Linked DNA regions of Homo sapiens. The protein of the gene in region 1 purifies or fractionates together with the protein of each later gene. This does not show direct contact. Each region holds a gene or a part of one and is shown on either strand. Other genes may lie near its edges. The genes, in order: TRIM3 and MYO5A.

Region 1 (10,270 bases):
CTTAAACTGCCCTTATTCTCTCCAATTTCACCTCATCCCACTTTACTCCTCACTTGGCCACACTGGTTTCTTTTCTGGTATCTGAACATGTCCTGTCTACTTCTTCCTCAAGGCCTTTGCACAGATTTTTCTATTGCCTGGAACAATCTGTCTCCTTCTTATCCTCAGAACTCAGGTCAAATGTCACCTCCTCAGGGAAGCCTTCCTTGATGACTATATAGAATAGTTCTTGCCCCAAACACCCCTACTTCTCTCTGTTTATATCCTGTAAAACATTAATACAAGCTGCAGCTCTCGTTTTCTTGATTGCTTACTGTCAGTCACTGCCCACTAGAACATCCTCTGAGAGCAGGGACCAAGGGATACATGAATGAATACTAGTTGACAGTGAAGGCTCTGCAGTGAAAACTGGATTCAGATCTCAGCTATTTACTTACTGTGTAGCCTTGGAAATATTTCTTTTTTTTTATTTGTTTATTTAATTTAAGATAGAGCCTCTCTCTGTCACCCAGGCTAGAGTGCAGTGATGTGATCATGGCTCACTGCAGCCTCCACCTCCCAGGCTCAAATGATCCTCCCACCTCAGCCTCCCGATTAGCTAGAACTACAGGTGCATGCCACCACACCCAGCTAATTTTTAAATTCTTTTTTAGAGACTGCATCTCACTATGTTGTTTCCCAAGCTACTCTGGAACTCCTAGGCTCAAGTGATCCTCCCACCTTGGCCTCCCAAAGTGCTGGGATTACAGGCATGAGCAACTGCACCTGGCCAGAGATATTTCTTAATTATTTACTGACTTTGAACCTTAGTTTCCTCCTCTCTAATATGGGGATACCTGGGTGTGGTAGCCTGCACCTGTAATCCCAGCTACTCAGGAGGCTGAGGCAGGAGGATCACTTGAGCCCAGGAGTTCAAGTCCAGTTTGGGCAATATAGCAAGACACTCATCTCTAAAAAAAAAATAAAATTTAAAAAATTGAAACAAGCTGGGCACGGTGACTCACGCCTGGAATCCCAGAACTTTGGGAGGCTGAGGCGGGCAGATCACAAGGTCAGGAGTTCGAGACCAGCCTGGCCAACATGGTGAAACCCCATCTCTACTAAAAATGCAAAAATTAACCGGATGTGGTGGCGTGCGCCTGTAGTCCCAGCTACTTGGGAGGCTGAGGCAGGAGAATCACTTGAACCCAGGAGGCAGAGATTGCAGTGAGCCAAGATGGCGCCACTGCACTCCAGCCTGGGTGACAGAGAGAGACTCTGTCTCAAAAAAACAAAAACAAAAACAAAAAACAAACCAAAAAAAATTAAAATGAAAAGTTACATTAAAAAATTAAAATAAAAAAATAAAATGAAGTTAATAAAGTATCTGTTGCAGGGATTAAGGAAATCAGTATGTATAAATCACTTAGCCAGTCCCTGGCAAACAGTAAGCAATCAATACATGGTAGCTACTGTTATTACAATTTCTCAGCCAGATTTTCTCCAGGAGTGCTCAGTGATCTGGGCACAGGAGAAAGTGCAGAGACATCCAATTTCAGCTCTGATCCAACATTGAGCTTCTATTGCATGGGTTTTGCAAAGGATAAAGATGTGAAGGAACTGCAGGGGAGCCAGTCGGTCAGCCACAGGGTCCAGGATGGGCAGGAAAGACAGGGAGGCCAGGACGCAGCTGGTGACTGGGAAAAGAGGGAGCAGTCAAAGGGGCTAGATATCTATATTGTATCGAAAGTGGTGTAATGGGAGTGGGGTAACGGGAGCCAGGAGTGGAACGTTGGCGTTTATGACTACAGATAAGATTCTGGATTATAAGATTCAGGGCATGGTTGGGAGGGAGTGTTACTGAGGTGGAATGGGGGACAACCCTGAAGAAACAGTTAAGAACCAACAGGCACAAGAGGGTGGTTGTCCCCAGGCTGACAGAAGAACTTGAATGGACAGGAAAACTGAGGCCATTTCCAGTTGATAAAGGAGAGTGGGCAGTGGAGCTGGAATCTCAAAGAGCAGGGCTGGCAGGGAAGCAGTATCTCTGGTGCAGAGCCAGGTTTCCGTTGGGGCAGAAGGCAGAGGAAAAGTGCGGATAGAGGCAGTGGTGGTGAGAAGACCTAGGGACCAGGCCACCCAAGACAGAACAATGAGAGATAAGGGCCCAAGAGAATATTGTCAAAATACAGATGTGATCACATATAAAACCCTGCAAAGGCTTCATGTGGCTCTCAGGGTAAAGGTGAAATTCCCTAACAGGTCTACAAAGCCCTAGGTGGTCTGGCCTCCACCTACCTCTCCAGCTTCATCCCATAATACTCTCAGTCACACTCACTCTGCTCTAGCCCTACCAGGCTTCCTCCAGGCCTCTTACCTGACATATTTTCTCATGTCACATGAGCTTTTCCAATGGTCTTTCTTCTGTGCAGAATGCTCTTCCAACCCCCTTTACCTAGTTAACTCCTATTCATCCTCTGAATTGCTCCTCAGGGAAACCTTCCCTGATTCTCCAAACTATAACAGATTCCATATGCCAATCTCTCATAGCTCAGCACTTTATTTGCAGCACTTACTAAAAGTTATATTTATCTATAATCTGGCTATATGATTATTTGATGACTATCTTTCTCTTTCACTATACTGTTAGCTCTTTAAGAGTAAGCATTGTAAGTGATGGATACCTTAAATACCCTACTTGATTGTTACCCATTCTATGCTTGTGTAACAATGTATCACATGTTCCCCATAAATATGTAAACTATTGTGTATCAGTTTTTAAAAAGAGTAAGCACGGTAGCTCACGCCTGTAATCCCAGCACTTTGGGAGGCCGAGGTAGGCGGATTGCCTGAGTTCAGGAGTTCAAGAACAGCCTGAGCAACACGGTGAAACCCCATCTGTAATAAAATACAAAAAGTTAGCTGGGCGTGGCGGCGTGCGCCTGTAGTCCCAGCTACTCCGGAGGCTGAGGCAGGAGAATTGGTTGAACCTGGGAGGCAGAGGTTGCAGTGAGCCGAGATCGTGCCACTACACTCCACCTTGGGCAACAGAGCGAGACTCCATCTCAAAAAAAAAAAAAAAAAAAAAAAAAGAGTAAGGATCTTATCTGTTTTTGCTCATCACTGCATACCCAATGCCTAGAACAGGGTCTGGCACATAGTAGTTGCTCAATAAATGAATATTTGTTAAATGAATAAGTGATCCATAGAAGCCTAGAGGCTGGGACAGGTTGCCTTTCACTCAGTACCTGAGGACAACAAGGACAAGCAGGGAAGGACAGACCTAACTTCAAATATCCTCCAACTAGTCATAAATTGCTGATGCCAAAGCTGGTTGAGTCTGAGCACTGTTTGATTTCTTAGGTGGTGTCAAAAGCTGCCTTGAGGTTTGGGAAAGGACAGAGAAGGCCCTATTCTTGACAGGAACCATGGCCCAGTGTTATGGTTCTTATGGTTCTCTCACAGGTTCTTGCCCTCAAAACCTCATTTCCTGCAGGTTGGGGTTCACCTGCTCTCCTCCCAGGTAAGCATGTTGCCTCACCTACTACAGGTTTACACATGCTCCCTCACCCTCCCCACAGGGGAGGAGGATCCTCATCCTCCCCACAGGGTCCTCATCCCTCCCCAGTACACACATCCCCTCACCTCTCACAGAAGGTGTGCAGGCAAGGAAGAACCTTGGGGCACTGGTACCGATCCAGGCAGATGCTGCATACCAGGAACTGCTTGTCCATTGGCTGGACCTCTGGGCCAGGGCTGTCCTCCCTCTTTGCCATGGCGCCCACAGATGGCTCCCGCCACTCACACCAGCCTCTGTATGGAGAGATGGTCAGCACCAGGGAGTCCAGAACTTCTTCTCCCCACCCAATCCCCGCCACTCAAATCCCCTGCAGAGAACTTGCCCCCACCTCTTCCCTGCTAGGGGCAAGACAGGGCAGTGACTGGAAGGATCAGGGTGATGTGACCTCTGAGCCTGGTGTTCTGTTTAAGAGCACAGACGTAGGATTAGATTGGGTTTCAAACCTGGCTCAGTCTCTCACCAGCTATGTGAGCTTGGACAATCCATGTAACTTCTCTGAGCCTCAGTCTCTTAATTTGTAATTACAGGAATAATAATTTGAGAGTGTGACATAGTGCCTGTTGAGTGCATGGTACAGAGATGTCCATTTTCACTGACATACCTACCCTTCATCTCCTCTACCTCCCCCAAATCCTCCTCCAAGAGACCTGAATGGAGTGTCTCTCCTCTAACTACCTGCAGCTCTTCCATTTATACCCTGACCCACCTCTTAGCACAACTGCCTGAAACTGCACTCTTTTTCACACCCAGTTAGTATCAAGGTCGGGATTGCTTCCTGAATATCTTAAACCCTTCTCTCCAATCCCACAGTTACTACCCCTAATTCAGGCAACCATCTGTTCTCTCCTGGAATACAGCAATAGCCTCTTAACTGGTGTTCTTGTCTCCTCACTGACACCTTTTCATTTATCTTCCTTGAAGCCAGAATGAATTTTCTAAAACACAGATTTGATCTTGTCAGTACTCTGTTTAAATTCCTTCAAATGTTATCCATTGTCCAAAGTCCTTATATTGACCAGTGAGGCTTAACTTTGCCCCATACCTTTTCTACAACCTCATGTCTCATAAGTCTATGATCAATCATTCCTGCTGGGTTTTTTTTTTTTTTTTCCAGTTCCTGGAAAATTCCTTGTTCTCTTTTGCTTCTGGGAGATCAGGCATTCGTTCTCTCTGTCCTGGGATCCTTTTCCTGGCCCCTTTTCCTGGCTGATGTGACACCTACTCATCTTTCAGGTCCCCATATAAATGTCACCTCCTTTAGAAGACCTTCCATGACTACCCAGAGTCTGGCTTGGGTGCTCTACCTCTGTGTCCCTCAGCACCCTGTATTTACTCCATCCTAACTCTTATAAGCTATGCTGTAATGTTCTTGTTACTTCTCTGCTTTCTCCACTCCATGCAGTGTTATTGAGGATAGGCATTTTATTTATTTATTTATATTTTATTTTATGTTTTCATTCTTAGCACTTAGCACAGAGCCTGACATAAAGATTGATCTATATTTACTGAATTGATTTCAGGAATTCAATAAATATTTACTGCCTACTTTGTACAGGTGTTAGGAATGGAATGATAAAACAGACAGGGTCACTGTCCCTGTGGTGGGGAGGTGGTGGCAGATATTTTAAAAGTAAATAATAGTGGCAGGGAAGTGATATAAAGAAAAAAGGGATGCTGTGAGAAAGAACACTTTTGATTGAGTCATCAGGGAAGGCTCTCCAAGGAGGTAACTTTTAAGCAGAATTCTGGGTGGATGGGAGAAAAATGGTATGGGTGAGGGTGAGAAACAACAGGGAGTCAGGAAGGGAAATCATTCTAGGCTGAAGAAACAGCATGATAAAGGTTCTTAGGCAGAAGGCTCATGGAGAACCTGAAAGGACTGTGTGGTTGGAGCCAAGTCAATAAAAGGAAGAGGTGAGTTTGGGAAGATAGGTAGAGATGAGATCATGAAGGACCTTATAACCGCCATTAAGAATGTGATTTTGGCTGGGTGCAGTGGCTCATACCTGTAATACTAGCACTTTCAGAGGCCAAAGCAGGAAGATCGTTTGAGCCCAGGAATTGGAGATCAGCCTGGGCAACATAATGAGACCAATATCTACAAAAAAATTAAAAATCATCTAGGCATGGTGGCACACACCTGTAGTCCAGGCTACTTGGGAGGCTGAGGTGGGAGGATTGCTTGAGCCCAGGAGGTCGAGGCTGCAGTGAGCCATAATCGTGCCACTGCACTCTAGCCTGGCATGAGACAAAGTTGAGATTCTGTCTCAAAAAAAAAAAGTGATTTTATCCTAAGTTGGAGGGGGGGATGATGTGGTTTATAAATAAGTGAAAATAAATTAGAAAGCTACTCTGGCAAGCTGTGAGAATTGAAGACAAAGAGAAGCCAGAGTGGAATCAGAGAAAACAGTTAGGAAGCTACCAAAGTTCTTTGGGTAAGATAATGTAGGGTATCATCTGAGCTACAAGCAAAAAGCTGGACTGATTTGAGAAATATTCATTGGCCGAGCAAGGTGGCTCACATCTGTAATCCCAGCACTTCGAGAGGCTGAGGAAGGAGGTTCACTTGAGCTCAGGAGTTCGAGATCAGTCTGGGCAACATAATGAGACCCCATCTCTATAAAAATAAAATAAATAATAAAAGAGAAATCCAAAGGACATCAAGATGAACTGGGTGTGAGAGGGATGTCAATTATGACTTAGCTTTCTCATTTTAGCAAGTGATGGGCCATGAATAGAGACAGTGAAAGCTGAGGTGGAGCTGATTTGGGGCATTCTGTTCTATGTATGCTAAGTACAATGTGTCTCTCTGATGTCCAGGTAGAGCTGTCAAGTAAGAAACAGAATACAGGAGCTCAAGAGAAAAGTCTGGACTGGTTATTGATTTGGGATCACTAGCATATAAATGGCACTTTCAGCAATGAGAAGACATGAGCCCACCTAGGGACAGAGGGCAGACAGTGATAAGAAAAGGGCCTGGCACAAGAGAGGGGAGCCAGCAAAGGTGACTCTGAGAAAGAGAACCCAGAGAAATGGTAGGAAAACCAAAAGAATGTGAAACCAAAGAAATCAACAGAACAGTGCAAGAAAAAGAAGGGGTGAAGTAAGAAACGGACTGAAGAGTGCCCACTAGATTTGGCTGTGGTGGGGTGGCAGGGGCAGAAGCCACGTCAGAGTGACTGAAGAGTAAATGGGAGATGAAGTTAACACAGCAGATGTAGACAATACATGGCAGGGATTTGGTCATGAAGGGTGGCAGAACAACAGCTGGATTACTCCAAAATAGGCAATGAATAGGACCAGGTCACCATTGTCTGTGCTGTTGGATGCATTATGAGCCTTTTTCTAAAGACTGTGAATGAATGAATGAATGAATGAATGAATGAATGCAGGAGCGAGTCTAGATTTGGGGAGGGATAGAAGGGCTGAGTTGCTGTGCCTTATGTTTGTGTAAGGGTGGGCCTGGGTAGAGTGTGAAGGGCATGCCTGAAAGTATCCTCTGCTGATGTAGACACTGGCATCCTGATGTTCTCTCTACAGTTGTAATGGGTTCTGGAGTCTGAAGACTTAATACCAGGAAAACATAGCAGGAGGGAGGACAGATTGAAGGTTGGCGGAAGGACCAGGAGGCGGGAGGCAAGCTGAAGCCTCTGTCTGGTGAAGGGAAAGGCTGGGAGGAAGAGTGGGAGTGGTCTGCTGGGTCCTGCTGGGGTAGCTGGATGCCAGGCTCCACCTCTCTCCAAGCCTAGGGGCTCTCCCAGACTGTCACACAGGGGCGGGGATTGGGCTATGTCCAAGGACCAATAGCTCCTCCCCCACTCCTCCCCTTCCTGCTTCAGTTCCCCTCCCAGACTTACTGGGCATGCAGCCGCTGAGGCCATACCCCTGCCTGAATCTGAGATTCTCTTCCTCCCGTGGGGTCCTAGCTCTTCCATCCCACTGTGCTCTAGAGATTTGCCCCCAAGATCCTATAGGTGGTGGTTCAAGTGAACTGTTTATCACAGCAGACACTTATAAGGCCTTGGTCTCAGAGCCAGACTTTACTCTCCTTTCTCATACTGCCTTCTGCTATCCCTGTATTGGTTATTCCCACCATACTTTATGGCTTAGTTCTCAAGGCACCTCACTCCCTCATTCAGCATTCACTTGACACTGCTGCTAGGCCTGGGGACACAAAGACAAATAGTCACAGCTCAGCCTTCATGGATTCCACAATCTAATAAATAGATTACTGCAATGTAAAGTGGTGAAGACCATGATGAGGAAGCACCAATTGCTCCAGGAGTACAAAGGTTACCTAACCTAGATCTGGAGCAGGGGTGGGTCCAGAGGTTGGAGGCCAACCTTTCTCCTAAAGAAAGTAACTTTAGTAACTCCTAAAGAAAGTAACGTTCAAGCTGAGGATGAGTTACAGAGAGTATGGTGCCTTTTGCATCAGGAGGCTGAATCAGACACTGTGATGGGAGGGCTAAGAAACAAGATGGAGAGGTAGGCAAAAGATATATCATGCAATGCCTTGTTGGTCTTATTAAGGAGTTTAGACTTTACGCTTACCTGCTAGGGGATGAAGGATTTATCCAAAAAGCAAAGGAAAACTTTGGTAGTGGTGAGGGCTATTAAGTATAGAGTGACAAAAGTACATTTTTGGCTGCTATGTGGAAAATAGTTTAAAGGGCAAGGACGGAAAATTAAGAAACTGCCTTGATTAGGAGAATAGCAAAGACAGGCCAAGATAAATCAATTTTGCAGGGGGATATCAACTGAACTTGGTGGCTGGGTATTTACATGTGAAGAGTTAGGGGAGAAGAAGGAATTAACAGATGATTCTTTGGAAACTCTCAAAGAAGAGCAGTTTGGATGAGAGGGTGATAAGTTTGGTGTTTATCTTTTAAGGTTTTTTCAGTTTTGTTTTTGTTTTTTAAGAGACAGGGTCTTACTCTGTTGTCCAGGCTGGAATGTGGTGTTATGATCATAGCTCACTGTAGCCTCAAACTCCTGGGCTCAACTAATCCTCCTGCCTTGGCCTGCCAAAGCGTGGGGGTTGCAGGCATGAGCCACAGCACCCAGCTAGAGTTCACTGTTTAATGTGATGAATCTGAGGTGCCTATGGGATGTAATTCAAGTGGAGAGGTCCAGTTGGCAGTTGGAAAGATACGCTGAAGCCTAAGAGAGAGGTCTGGCCTGGAGACATGAATGTGGATGTTGGTGCAGAGATGGTTCCTGAAGCCATGGGCGTGGATGACATTACCCTGAGAGGGTAAAGAGAGAAAGGAGGGTCTATCACCAAGTCCCAAGGAACCTCAATATTTAAGAGATAGGCCCAGGAAGCAGAGTCTGCAAAGAAGATTGAGAAGGCACAACCAGAGAAGCAAGAGAATCAGGAAACAGATGTCATGAATGCCAAGGGAGAAGAGAACTTCATGAACAAGGGAGTGAAATGCTGCAGAGGTCCCATTATTTAAGCCCCAAAGAGGCTTTCATTAACCTCAGAGCATGTGGTTTTCAGGGGATGGAGGACAGGAAGCCAGATGCAGGGAGTCAAGCAAGAAGCTGATTGTGAACAAATGAAGACAGCCAGTGCTGACTCCACTAGATCCTGGACATCTGCAAAGGATGTGTTTCAAGGCTTTTCAGTTTCTCCAAATTCTCAAATAGCATTAATTTTCCCCAGGACTTCCTCCTACAATCTCACAGGATTCCCAGTACACATGAGTTACACAGTTGTGAATGGAGGTAACCAAGGCATTGTTGAAAATGGATGCGAGAGGTCAGCTAGGCTCATTTGCTTGCTAAAATAACTCACGTCTACTCACTAGCTTCCAGGTTTATCTGATCATTTGAGACCTCAAAAAAATGACAAATGACTGCAGGTTACAGTCTTTGGGCTTTCTCTGAAACAAATGAAGCCTTGGATGAGGCAAAGTCCTTAAAGCCAATGAATCCTTTAAATAAGATTAGCAGGGAAGGAAAGCAATGAAATTCATGGCCATCTCCCCCAACATTGCCAGACTGAGTAAAGTGAATGAACCATTCAATCAAACTTCTCTGGGCACACTGTGGGCCAGGTCCTTCAGCTGTGAAATAGAGACACAAAGCTGAATCAGACACACTCCCTGTCTTTCACAAGTTTTTAGACTAATGTGAGAAACAGAAATGGAAACACGTAACTACAATGTGATAAGTACCATGATATTGACATGTTCAAATTGCTACAGCAGCAAACTGGAGGAAGTACCTAACTCTGAGGATGGTACAGAATAAAGAAGGCTTCCAGAGGAAGGGGTATTTGAGCTGGGTCTTGAGAGACAAATAGGACATTGATACGTACATTGGGAAAACAGTGAGTAAAGAAACAGAAACATGAGAAACTAAGAAATATGGAACAGATGGACAAGATTGCAAATCTCCAAAAGGCAGAGGTTATACATGATGCTTTTACATCCTAAAAGCATAAAAATAAATATGCTAAAAATAAATAAATCTAAATAAATAAATAAATAAAAGGCACCACCACTCACCCACCCACACAAGCGAGAACCCTGGTAGTCTTCTCAATTACACCTTTTCTTTCACCTTTCAGATACAAGCTATGACTACATCCTCAATTCTGCCTCTGAAATTTGGCTAGGTTTAAAAAGTTAGGAGATCTAGGATCTAGTCCTAATGCTGTAACTAACTCCACTAACACAAGGTGAAACTCTAGGTAAGTTC
Region 2 (10,685 bases), on another chromosome or scaffold:
AAGCAGGAGGATCACTTGAGTCCAGGAGTTTAAGACCAGCCTGGGCAACATACTGAGACTATCTCTAGAAGAAATTTAAAAATTAGCTGGGTGCATAGCTGTGGTCCCAGCTACTCACGAGGCTGAGGTGGGAGGACAGCTTGAGCCCAGGAGTTAAAGGCTACAGTGAGCCATGTTCATTTCACTGCACTCCAGCCTGGGTGACACAGTGAGACCCTGTCTCAAAAAAAATAAAAAATTAAAAAAAAAAAAACCCAGCTTCAAGTAATCTTGACCATCCTATAGCATGGATACCATGGTGCTATCCATGGTGTCTGGGAACATGATGACAGGAGGAATAGCATGCCATTCATTATAATGTTCCCGATAATCCTTCTAGGTCTAATTGATAAACCCTACTCCACAAATGTAGAATTGCTTCTAGTTACCAAAAGCACCTATGGATGATGTATGATATAGATATCCACTGGCAAGTCAAGACTAGCAAATATTTTCAAAATCAGAAGCAATGAGATATCATAGTTTCCTTTAATTCTTTTGGGAGCAAGGCAGGTTGACCACAAACACATCAACATACTACTCTGTGAATAAACCAAAAACCATTGAATAGTACACTTTAAATGGTGAATTATATGGTATAAGACACATATCTCAATAAAGCTGTTATTTTTAAAAATCAACAAAACATGTTTTAACCAAAATATTCGTTTCCAGACAAGTATCCCAAGAACCTAGCTATTGTCCTTAAAATGTTTATACTGCTGGAAAAACTTACAAAATGGAAGCCTTGTTAAATTGCTGTGACAAAACCATTACCATTCTGGCTAAAAAGAAGAAATTGAACAGTCTCTTGTCCTTCACTGTAATAGGAACTGATCTGTATCACACATTAAAATCTGCCCTTAAGATCTGAATGACATTTTTTTAAAGAGCACTTTTCAGATTTAACCACAATGTTAAATACCATAATTATGGCATATCACTAATACATCTTTCCTTGTAATCTATCCTAGAACTTCCTTCCTATAATCCTCTGCAAGGGGAAGATCCTTGTGCTTATCCACTGATAATACTTCTAATGATTTTCCTATTCCTCTAGTAATTACAATAGTAGTTTTTATCTCTGGAATCAGCCCAACCTTCCCCATGTCCCAACCCATTCCCTAACTTCTACTAATAAATATCATACCAGCTGTCTGCCTGCTGTTGAGGTAACAGCAGGTTATTTATGCCCCTATAGATTCAAAGTGGGTCAAGAATGTAAGAAGCAGACTATGAGCGTGTTGAGGGAAAGGACTGTATCTTGTTCATTGTTAAATCCTCTAAACATTAAGCAAAGTACCTGGCACACAGGATGCCTGATAAGTATTTCTGCTTGCCATTAAGCTAAGGCCCATTCACAAAAAGAATTTGCCAACAAATAACCAAGTAACCAGACTATTAATTAGGCATAAGTATATTTAGAAGAAGGCAGTGTAAGCCCCAACTTCAGTCTTGATCTCTAAGCCAGTCTGTCTTTATAATGACAAAGAGGTTAAAAAAAATTTTTTTTCAACACACGGTCTTGCTGTTTTGCCCAGGATGGAGTGCAGTGGCACAGTCATGGCTCACTGCAGCCTCAACCTCCCAGGCTCAAGCAATCTTCCTGCCTCAGCTGATCATCCTGCCTCAGCTCTCGAGTAGCTGGGACCGCAGGCGTGACTAACTCGCCCAGCTAATTTTTATTTATTTATTTATTTATTTTTTGAGACAGAGTTTCGCTCTTGTTGCCCAGGCTCGCGATCTTGGTTCACTGCAACCTCCGCCTTCCAGGTTCAAGTGATTCTCCTGCCTCAGCCTCCTGAGTAGCTGGGATTACAGGCATGCGCCACCACGCCCAGCTAATTTTCTATTTTTAGTAGAGACGGGGTTTTGCCATGTTGGTCAAGATGGTCTCGAACTCCTGACCTCAGGTGATTCACCCACCTCGGCAACGTGTTGGGATTACAGGCGTGAGCTACCGTGCCCAGCCTAACTTTTTAATTTTTTTGTAGAGACCAGGTCTCATTATGTTCCTCAGGCTGTTAAAAGGTAAATTTTAAAATAGATTGTGATAAAGCTGTGACAGAAGCCCAAAACTTTACCATTTACAAATCACAACATCTTTTCAATTTTTTCTCCCAAATTATCCTGGGGGAAAAAAGCATTCGAAATCCAACAACAATTTATTATCCACTCAGTCTCTAGTTAAGCAGCCTACTATTAGGTGACTCAAAGATGACTGCTCACCATATAGAACGGAGGGTGTCCAATCTTTTGGCTTCCCTGGGCCACACTGGAAGAAGAATTTTCTTTGGCCACACATAAAATACACTAATGATAAATGATGAGCTAAAAAAAAAATTGCAAAAAAAACACAACAACCCATGTTTTAAGAAAGTTTATGAATTTGTGTTGGGGCACATTCAAAGCCGTCCTGGGCCCACATGCGGCCCATGGGCTGCGGGTTGGACAAACTTGATGTAGAAGTGGAGGGGATGGGCTACACAAAGTAACCAAGGAATGTTTACAGACTGATTATCTCTTCATGTGAAAATGATTTTGATATTTCTTAATATCGACCTCATAAGTTCCTTATGAGGATTATGAGTTCATATTTTTAAAACGCTTAAAACAGTACCTGGCACATAGCAAGCACCATATTAAGTGTTTAAGTTACTTTTAATCAGTTTCCAATTGCATTCGTTCATATGTTAGAGATCTACAATGCCTAAAGAAATTACCAGGTTGAGAGAGAAGTTCCAACTGTACAGTCGTTAAATCTAAAACTAGAAAGAAAGAGGTCTCAGACAATGTTTCATGCAAGCTCATTTCATGGTTGAAGAAATTAATCATATATCTCATATTTGCAGAGAAATTCATAGGTTACAAAAAGCTTTCACAACGATTATTAAGTTTGATTCTCACAACAGCTTGTAAGGGATGCAAGGCAAGTATAATTAACTGCATTTACTCATTAGGAAATCGAACCAGAGATGTTAAGTGACTTGTCCAAGGTCACAGTTAGTAAGTCCCGGCTTGAATCCAGGTCTCTTGATGCCCAGTCTTCTTTCCTCTACAAAACACACTGCAACTTGGGCCCTGGACTTCAGTGACATTTGGAAACAATGATTCCAGTGATTACAGGACCCTAAATGAAAGTTCTGTTGCAAAAGCTAATGTGAAAAGGCAACTCTATTAACTGCATGTAGAAGTAATCAATATCTGGCAAAATATCTACCTACACATGAGTGTACAGTATAAAATGCCATGATTACATATATTCACAAAGGTCATCACAAATCTGCGCAGCACTCAAGTGACAGTTCTCCATAATATGTCATTCAGAGATCGCCAGACCCTGAGTATATTGATGTCAGTCTAAGAAAAGACTGCCACTTCCCTTAAACCAAACCCAGAAGGGAAAGGCTTGCCCCAGAGGATGGTAAAGACATGGAGCCTAACAAGGCTCTGCGGGATTACACGCAGGTTGCAAACTCCCAGCGATAAATGAGTACCGACCCTCCCAGCCGGTGAATCAGCTCGCGTTCATCCGGCAGCATCTTTCCCCGGGGCTCGCCACCCCCAGCGCAGCTAAACTGGGGAGCTAAAGGTGATACGGCCACCGTTTGCAGGATTCAAAATAACCTCACAGAAAGGCTAGCTGGCGGTAGAAGCGGCACTGCATACCAACACAAGACGTTATTTTAAGCGCGTGTCCCCACGAGAGAACCCATCCGATCTACTGGAGCAAGCATCTCCCACCCGCCGGGAATTTTCCAAAGCCAAGCAGGAGGGGAGGCACGCCCGCCCTGCTAAATCCACATGGGCCCCCTTTCCACTCCGAAGCCCGCTCTGCCCCCAGCTCGAGCAGCGCGGCAGGGGCCTGGGAGACCCCCGAGGCGGGCCACCTTCCGCCGCCTTCACCATCTCGCCCGAAAGAGGAAGGTGCCGCAGCGGGCGACCGGCTGGTAGGGCCGAGGGTTCTGAGGCGCTGAAGGGGATGGCGCTGGTGGGGCTCGCCTGGGCCCGGCGCTCCCGCCCCCTCCCCAGCCTGACAGCTGGCGGCGAGGGCCGCACAGCCCCAGTCCTCGACGCCGGCCGCGGGGTGCCTTACCTTTGTGTAGAGCTCCGACGCAGCCATGGCGGGCCCCGCGCGCCTACGCCCCCCGCCTGTGCGGAGGCCGCACCTCGCCTGGGCGGCCGCCCGAGCGGACTAGGAAGCGCCCGCAGCCGCCGGCAGGGAGCAGGGCAGGGCAGGGCCGGGCGGGGAGGGCCGCGCGGGGCGGGGCGGGGCGGGGCGCCTCAGGCGCTGGCCGCCCGCAGGGGCCTCGCCATCACTCCCGGGCTCGCCGCGAGCAGCCGCGAGCGCTCCACCTGCCCGGGGTCCTAGGGGTCGCCGCCGCCGCCGCAGCCACTTCGGCGGCCCGCGATGCTGCCTCCGCTGCCGCCGCCGCCACCGCCGCCGCCCTGTGCATTATGGGAGCGGGAGGAGGCTGCGCTCCAGCGCTGCCACCGCGGCTGCTCTGGGCTCTCTCGGGCTCACGCTGCCTCCCATCGGCTACGAGCACAGAGCATCATCATCATCAGCCTGCCAGCCGGCCCCGCCGCCGCCTCGCGCCCTGCCGAGGCCCGGAAACCCGCCCGGGACGTGAGCCCCGAGGGCGCGGCACACCCCGGGCGCCCCCACCCCGAAGCGAGCCCGGGGCCCTCTGCTGCGGAGCCTAGCTCCCGCGGTAGCGCAGCCATGGCACGGGCTGTTACTGTGTCCGAATAAACGATGGGAGCCTCCAGGCTGCTCCTCCCGTCCTTCCAAGCATTCCTAGGGAGAGGATTTAGGGGAAGCCCTCTTGAAAGACTGTAGAATAACCCAGGACTGTAGAAGAGCCTTGTCAGCAGCAGTGACCCGGGAGATGGGCAATGCAGGACCGGGAATTTCAGGTTAAGGTTGATCACCAAGGTCATTCCGAGCACCTCGATGTCTGCAGCAAAGTCGTCTCCCGATACCAGAGGGCAAGGGCCGCTTCTAAGCTACAGAAACTTAAGTGACTTTGAAACGAGATAGCCCGGGGACAGCCCAGGTGCCTCTTTCCTAGACCTGTGCGTTTGCGGAGATGCAACTACCCTTCTGTCCCAGCCTTCTTCCCGTCCTGTTCGCTGCTGGTGATTGTCGGCTCCATGGTGGCACCTGAAGTTTATCCGGTTGCCACCTGAAAATGACGGAGTACTTACATGGAAAATCTGTATTACAGTTTAACTCAACATCAAAAGGGCAAAGCCGCCCTCACTCTCCTCACGGTGATCCTTGAACATCCAGCACAAGAATGTGGTCTTTCTACTCCCAACCCTGCGCTGTCTTCATCCTCTATCTTCTCCCCACCCTCATTGTCGTTTCTGGTTGAATAATCTTCATTCTTTATTGTTGTCGTTGTTGTTGTTGCTGTTTTTGTTTGTTTAATCCCTGCCTCTTTGTAGTGCCCTCATCTCTCGTTTCTTTGAACTACAACTGGTCCCCAGTGCCTGTCATGGTAATCTGGTAGACCATTTCTATCACGAACAACTCTCATGGCTGAGGCCCCCGGTTGTGTGTGTTGTGTGCGTGTGTATTTGGAGAAAGACCATTCACTGAAAGGAACGGGGCCAGTCCTTACTCCGTGGAACTCAGACCTCTCCTCTTCGCCCACAATCCCCTCAGAAATGCTAGAGGGAATGTCTACTGAGTCGAAAGTCCTACAGATTTGTCTCTGTTCCTTCCCATTGCAAAACCAAATCGCTTTCATGTTTCTGGGACCCACTCTTTCTTCACCCAGACATAAAAAGAGAAAACGTGTGCAGTGACGACCAGCGGAACGGAAGGAGCACTGGACTGAGATTTAGGAGGCCTGGCTCCTACGCCTTGCAGTTTCTTCATGTCGTGTGCAAGGTGGTAACCACTCTGCCTGTTTTCTCACCTTCAAATAATACCTACCTCTCAGGACTGTCGAGAAATGCTGAGTATACTGAGAAAAAAAAAAAAACTAAAAAACTGGACGAGTTCTTGTAGGTGTGAATGCTTTCTTCGTTTTCTATTTTTTTCAAGTGATGAGGAGAAAACAGAAAGGGGAATTATCCTCTTATAAGTCCAGAACGCATGCATTCAACCACTCAAATATTTGGGGCCATACTAAGAGGAAGGTAATGGAGATGAGGAGGAGAAGAGTTTTGTATTTTTATTTATTGATTGATTGATACTGAGTCTTGTTCTCTTGCCTAGGCTGGAGTCCAGTGGCACAATCTCGGCCCATTGCAACCTCTGCCTCCCAGGTTCAAGCAATTCTCATGCCTCAGCCTCCTGAGTAGCTAGGATTACAGGTGTCCACCACCACGCTCAGCTAATTTTTGTATTTTTAGTAGAGACGGGGTTTCACCATGTTGTCCAGGCTGGCCTCAAACTCCTGACCTCAGGCTATCCGCCCGCCTCAGCCTCCCAAAGTTCTGAGATTACAAGAATGAGCCACCACGCCTGGCCGGGTTCTGTATTCTTGACCTTACTTTACTTTGTTCAGAAAAAAAGCAGAGTAAAAAGCCAGAAGCAGCAAAGGGAAGCCCCGAGGGGTGGCCTCCGCTCACTTCCATGTATGCGTTCATAGTCCCAAGCACCCTGTCACTAGTGAGGTGTAGAAATCAGCAATAGTTACAGCTTCTAAGGGTTTAGGATCCCCCTCTCAGAGTAGCCAGAGGGTAGTGTATTCTTAAGTTGTTAAAGTTTTCCGTTATTGCTTTATTATTGGGAGCATTTTTATGTAGGGTGTTTTCAAATGAAAACAATGTCTAGGTTTATATGAAAAATTCCATTCCTTATTTTCAACAAATATTGGAAGCTATCATATGCCAGACATTGTTCTACATGTTGAGAATTCAGGCATGAGCAAAACAGATGAAGAGCCCTGACCCCATGGAGCTTCCATTCTAGTCAGGGAGAAAGACAATGATAGAGTTAGAAGGTAAAGTTGGTAAGTGGTGTATTAGTTTCCTAGGGCTGCCATGATAAAGTAATACAAACTGTGCTTAACCAACGGAGAGGTATTATCTCACAGTTCTGGGGTCTAGAAGTCTGAGATCAAAGGATTGGGAGGGTTGGTTCCTTCTGAGGACTGTGAAGCAGAATCTGTTCCTTGCCTCTCTCCTGCCTTCTGATAGTTTGTGGACAATCTTTGGCATTTGACATTTTTTAGCTTTTGCTACATCCCCCAATCTCTGCCCTCATCTTCATGTGGCAGGCTCCCTGTGTGTGCGCATGTCTCTATATCCAAATTGTTCCTTCTTATAAGGACACAGTCATAATTGAATTAGGGCCCAACCCACTGCCCTCATCCTAAGTTGATCATCTGCAAAGATGGTGTTTCCAAATAAGGTCACACTCACAGGGATGGTGGGGTGGGGAGAGGTCAGAACTTCAACATTTTTTGAGGGACACAACTCAAACCAGAACAGTATGCAATGAGAAAAAACATACAGAGAAGAAAGAATTTGGGGGAAGAAGCAATTTGAATTAGGGTAGTCATCAAATTCCAATTGAATTATTTTTAATTGAGGGCTTATTATATGTCAGCACTTAAGATAATAAAGATATAGAGATGAGTGAAACATGATCACTGGCCTGGAGGAGCTCACTGCAAGGGGTGGCTGGAGGGGTAGCAGAAGAGGCAGTCCTTGCTGCACGGTCATACAAAATAGTAACTAATTCTGTAAGATTGGCCCAATTCTAGAAGTAGAAGCCCAATGCTGTGTTACTGGTTATATATAGTACATCAGTTGAGATTGGCATATCCTAATATTTAATGCTTCAGAGGACTAGGTACTGGGCATAGGTGACATTTAAGTCAGCGAGAAAGAACTCCAAATAGTTCATTGAGAGATCTAAGTGGTGATATGGATGGGAAGTCGTTTGTGGTTGAAGGACATGTGGGGGAACAGCATGAGGAAATGAAGCTATGGAACAGAAAAAAGTCAAGAATACAGTAAGGCTAACTGAAAACACTTTTGAAAGATGGGAGGCAAGTATCAGGAACTGCTTGGCTTCCCACCTCTTCCCTTCCCCAACTCCAGCTAGTTATTCTAGCTGCCCCTCACCTGTGAGCTTAGGCAACCCTAGGAAAGGAGGATAAAAAAGTGCTGTACTTAACTCAAAAGGTACAATACTTAATTCAATATCAAATAAATAATATATGTGAAAATTTTATGTGCAAAGTATATTGTAAATGTAAATTATTTTATTTTTTATTTTTTGAGACAGAGTCTCACTCTGTCGCCCAGGCTGGAGTGCAGTGGCATGATCTCAGCTTGCTACAATCTACACCTCCCTCTCGGGTTCAAGCGATTCTCCTGCCTCAGCCTCATGAGTAGCTGGGATTACAGGCACGTGCCACCACACCCAGCTAATTTTTGTATTTTACAGTAGAAGCAGAGTTTCACTGTGTTGGCTAGGCTGGTCTTGAATTCCTGAACTCAAGTGATCCACCTGCCTTGGCTTCCCAAACTGCTGGAATTATAGGTGTGACTCACTGCACCTGGCCTATTACTATTATTTTTATTCCCGATACCTATTACTATAATTCTGGATTCTAATCTTGTGTGTCCTAATGTATCTGTCTGATCTCTGGTCTTTTGTACCCCAGTCTTCTAGCCTGTGTCCTGACCACCTGCTATTTGACCAGCTTGTGTATCTCTATGCTTAGCTCCATGGCACCTGATTGCTTCAAACAGTTGATTTTTTTTCTTGGATCTTTAAATACTTCCAGCCCAATTCCATAGACTTCATATTGCCTTGATCTTCCTGAATGACATCATGTTATAGTACTTGTGGACCCCCTCTCATCCTGTACCTCCAACACCCACAGACACACACTTGCCTTACATGTCGTGGTGATGGAACCTCTTGAATAGTGAAAATGACTTAGATCCAAATGGCCTAGATTCTAGTCCCAGTTCCAACCTAGAGCAAGTCAGGGGAGCTTTTTAAAATAATAATAATAATAATAATAATAATAATAAACTTTTTATTTTAGAACAGTTTTAGATTACAGAAAAATTGCAAAGATAGTATGGAATTCCCATATATCCTGCAACCAGTTTCCCCTATTATAAATGTCTTACATTTTTATGATACACTTGTTACAATTAATCAGCCAATAGTGACTTGTTATAATTAACTGAAATACATACTTGACTCAGGTTTCCTTAGTTTTACCTAATGTCCTTTTTCTGTTTCAGGATCCTGTCCAGGATGCCACATTACATTTAGTCGTCATGTCTCATTAGGATCTTCTTTATGACCTGAAGCCTTATTTAAATTTAAAAAAAATTAAAAAAGAACAAAAGATCTTCCTAGCTGACAGTTTCTCAGGCTTTCTTTGTTTTTGATGACAATTTTGAGGAGTATAGGTCAGATATTTTGTAGAATGTGTCTCAATTGGGCTATGTCTTGATTAGACTGGGATTATAAATTTGTTTTGCCTTTTTTTGTTTTTTTTTTGAGACAGGGTCTCACTCTGTCACCCAAGCTGCAGTGCAGTGGAGCAATCTAGGCTCACTACAGCCTCAATCTCCCAGGCTCAAGTGATCCTCCTTCCTTAGCCTCCCAAGTAGCTGGGACCACAGGTATGTGCCACCACGCCTGGCTAATTTAAAAAAATTTTTATCAAGACAAAGTCCTACAATGTTGCACAAGCTGATCTTGAATCTGTGAGCTCAAATGATCCTCTCACCTCAGCCTCCTCAAGTGCTGGGATTACAGGTGTGAGCTACTAAGACCACAGAGTAAAATGTCATTTTCATCACATCACCATGGTCACACTACCAACATGACTTTCCATTGTTGATATTGACCTTGATCGCCTGGCTCAGGTTGTGTTTATCAGGTTTCTTCACTGTGAAGGTGTCTTCTCCTGCTGTTATGGGCTGAATTGTGTCCCCATCCAAAATTCATATGCTGAAATCTTAATTCCCAGTACCTCAGAATGTGACTATATTTGGAGACAGTGTCTTTAAAGAAGAAATTAAGTTACAATGAGGTCAATTGGATTTAATTCAATATGACTGATGTCCTTATAAGAAGAAAAGATTAAGACACAGACAGGTACAGAGGGAAGACCATGCAAAGACACAGAGAAAACACAACCATCTGTAAGCCAAGGAGAGAAGAAACCGGAAGAAACCAACTCTGCCAACCCCTTGATCTTGAGCTTCTAGTCAGAATTGTAAGAAAATAAATTTCTGTTGTTTAAGCCACAGCTCTAGCAAACTAGTACCACAGTCCTCTTTTTCATACTGTGGTCTCGAAAGAAGTCACTATATGCAGCCCCCACCTAAAGATTGGGGCATATGCTCCACCTCCGTGAGGATGGAGTACCTAAATTATTTAGAATTCTTCTGCATGGGAGCTTTGTCTCATCTCCTCCCGTATTCATTCATTCAATCATTTATTGATATCAGTATAGACGTATGGGCATTTATGTTATACTCTGGGGTATAATTCAGTACTACTCAATCTTGTTGCTCGGGTTGTTGATGCTATGGCCATGGGGAGCTCTTTCAGTTGGCTCCTATGTCCCTTTGATACCCTCATCATTGCATGTTATTTGGTTTTAGTTTCGTTTGTTTTTCTCAGAGTACTTCCTTACTTTCTA

What was found.
Region 2: the proteins of TRIM3 (region 1) and MYO5A purify together in Homo sapiens (affinity purification with western blotting; 2 studies listed by BioGRID, with this or other methods). This does not show direct contact.

The regions. Positions count from the first base shown.
Region 1 is NC_000011.10:6,461,941-6,472,210, forward strand, and holds part of TRIM3 (tripartite motif-containing protein 3), read right to left. Parts: intron 5,584-10,270; exon of another isoform or gene 5,566-5,583; intron 3,793-5,565; coding exon of another isoform or gene 3,756-3,792; coding exon 3,625-3,755; intron 1-3,624.
Region 2 is NC_000015.10:52,524,645-52,535,329, forward strand, and holds the start of MYO5A (unconventional myosin-Va), read right to left. Parts: upstream 4,237-10,685; 5' UTR 4,163-4,236; coding exon 4,136-4,162; intron 1-4,135. UniProt on the Homo sapiens protein: Processive actin-based motor that can move in large steps approximating the 36-nm pseudo-repeat of the actin filament. Can hydrolyze ATP in the presence of actin, which is essential for its function as a motor protein. Involved in melanosome transport.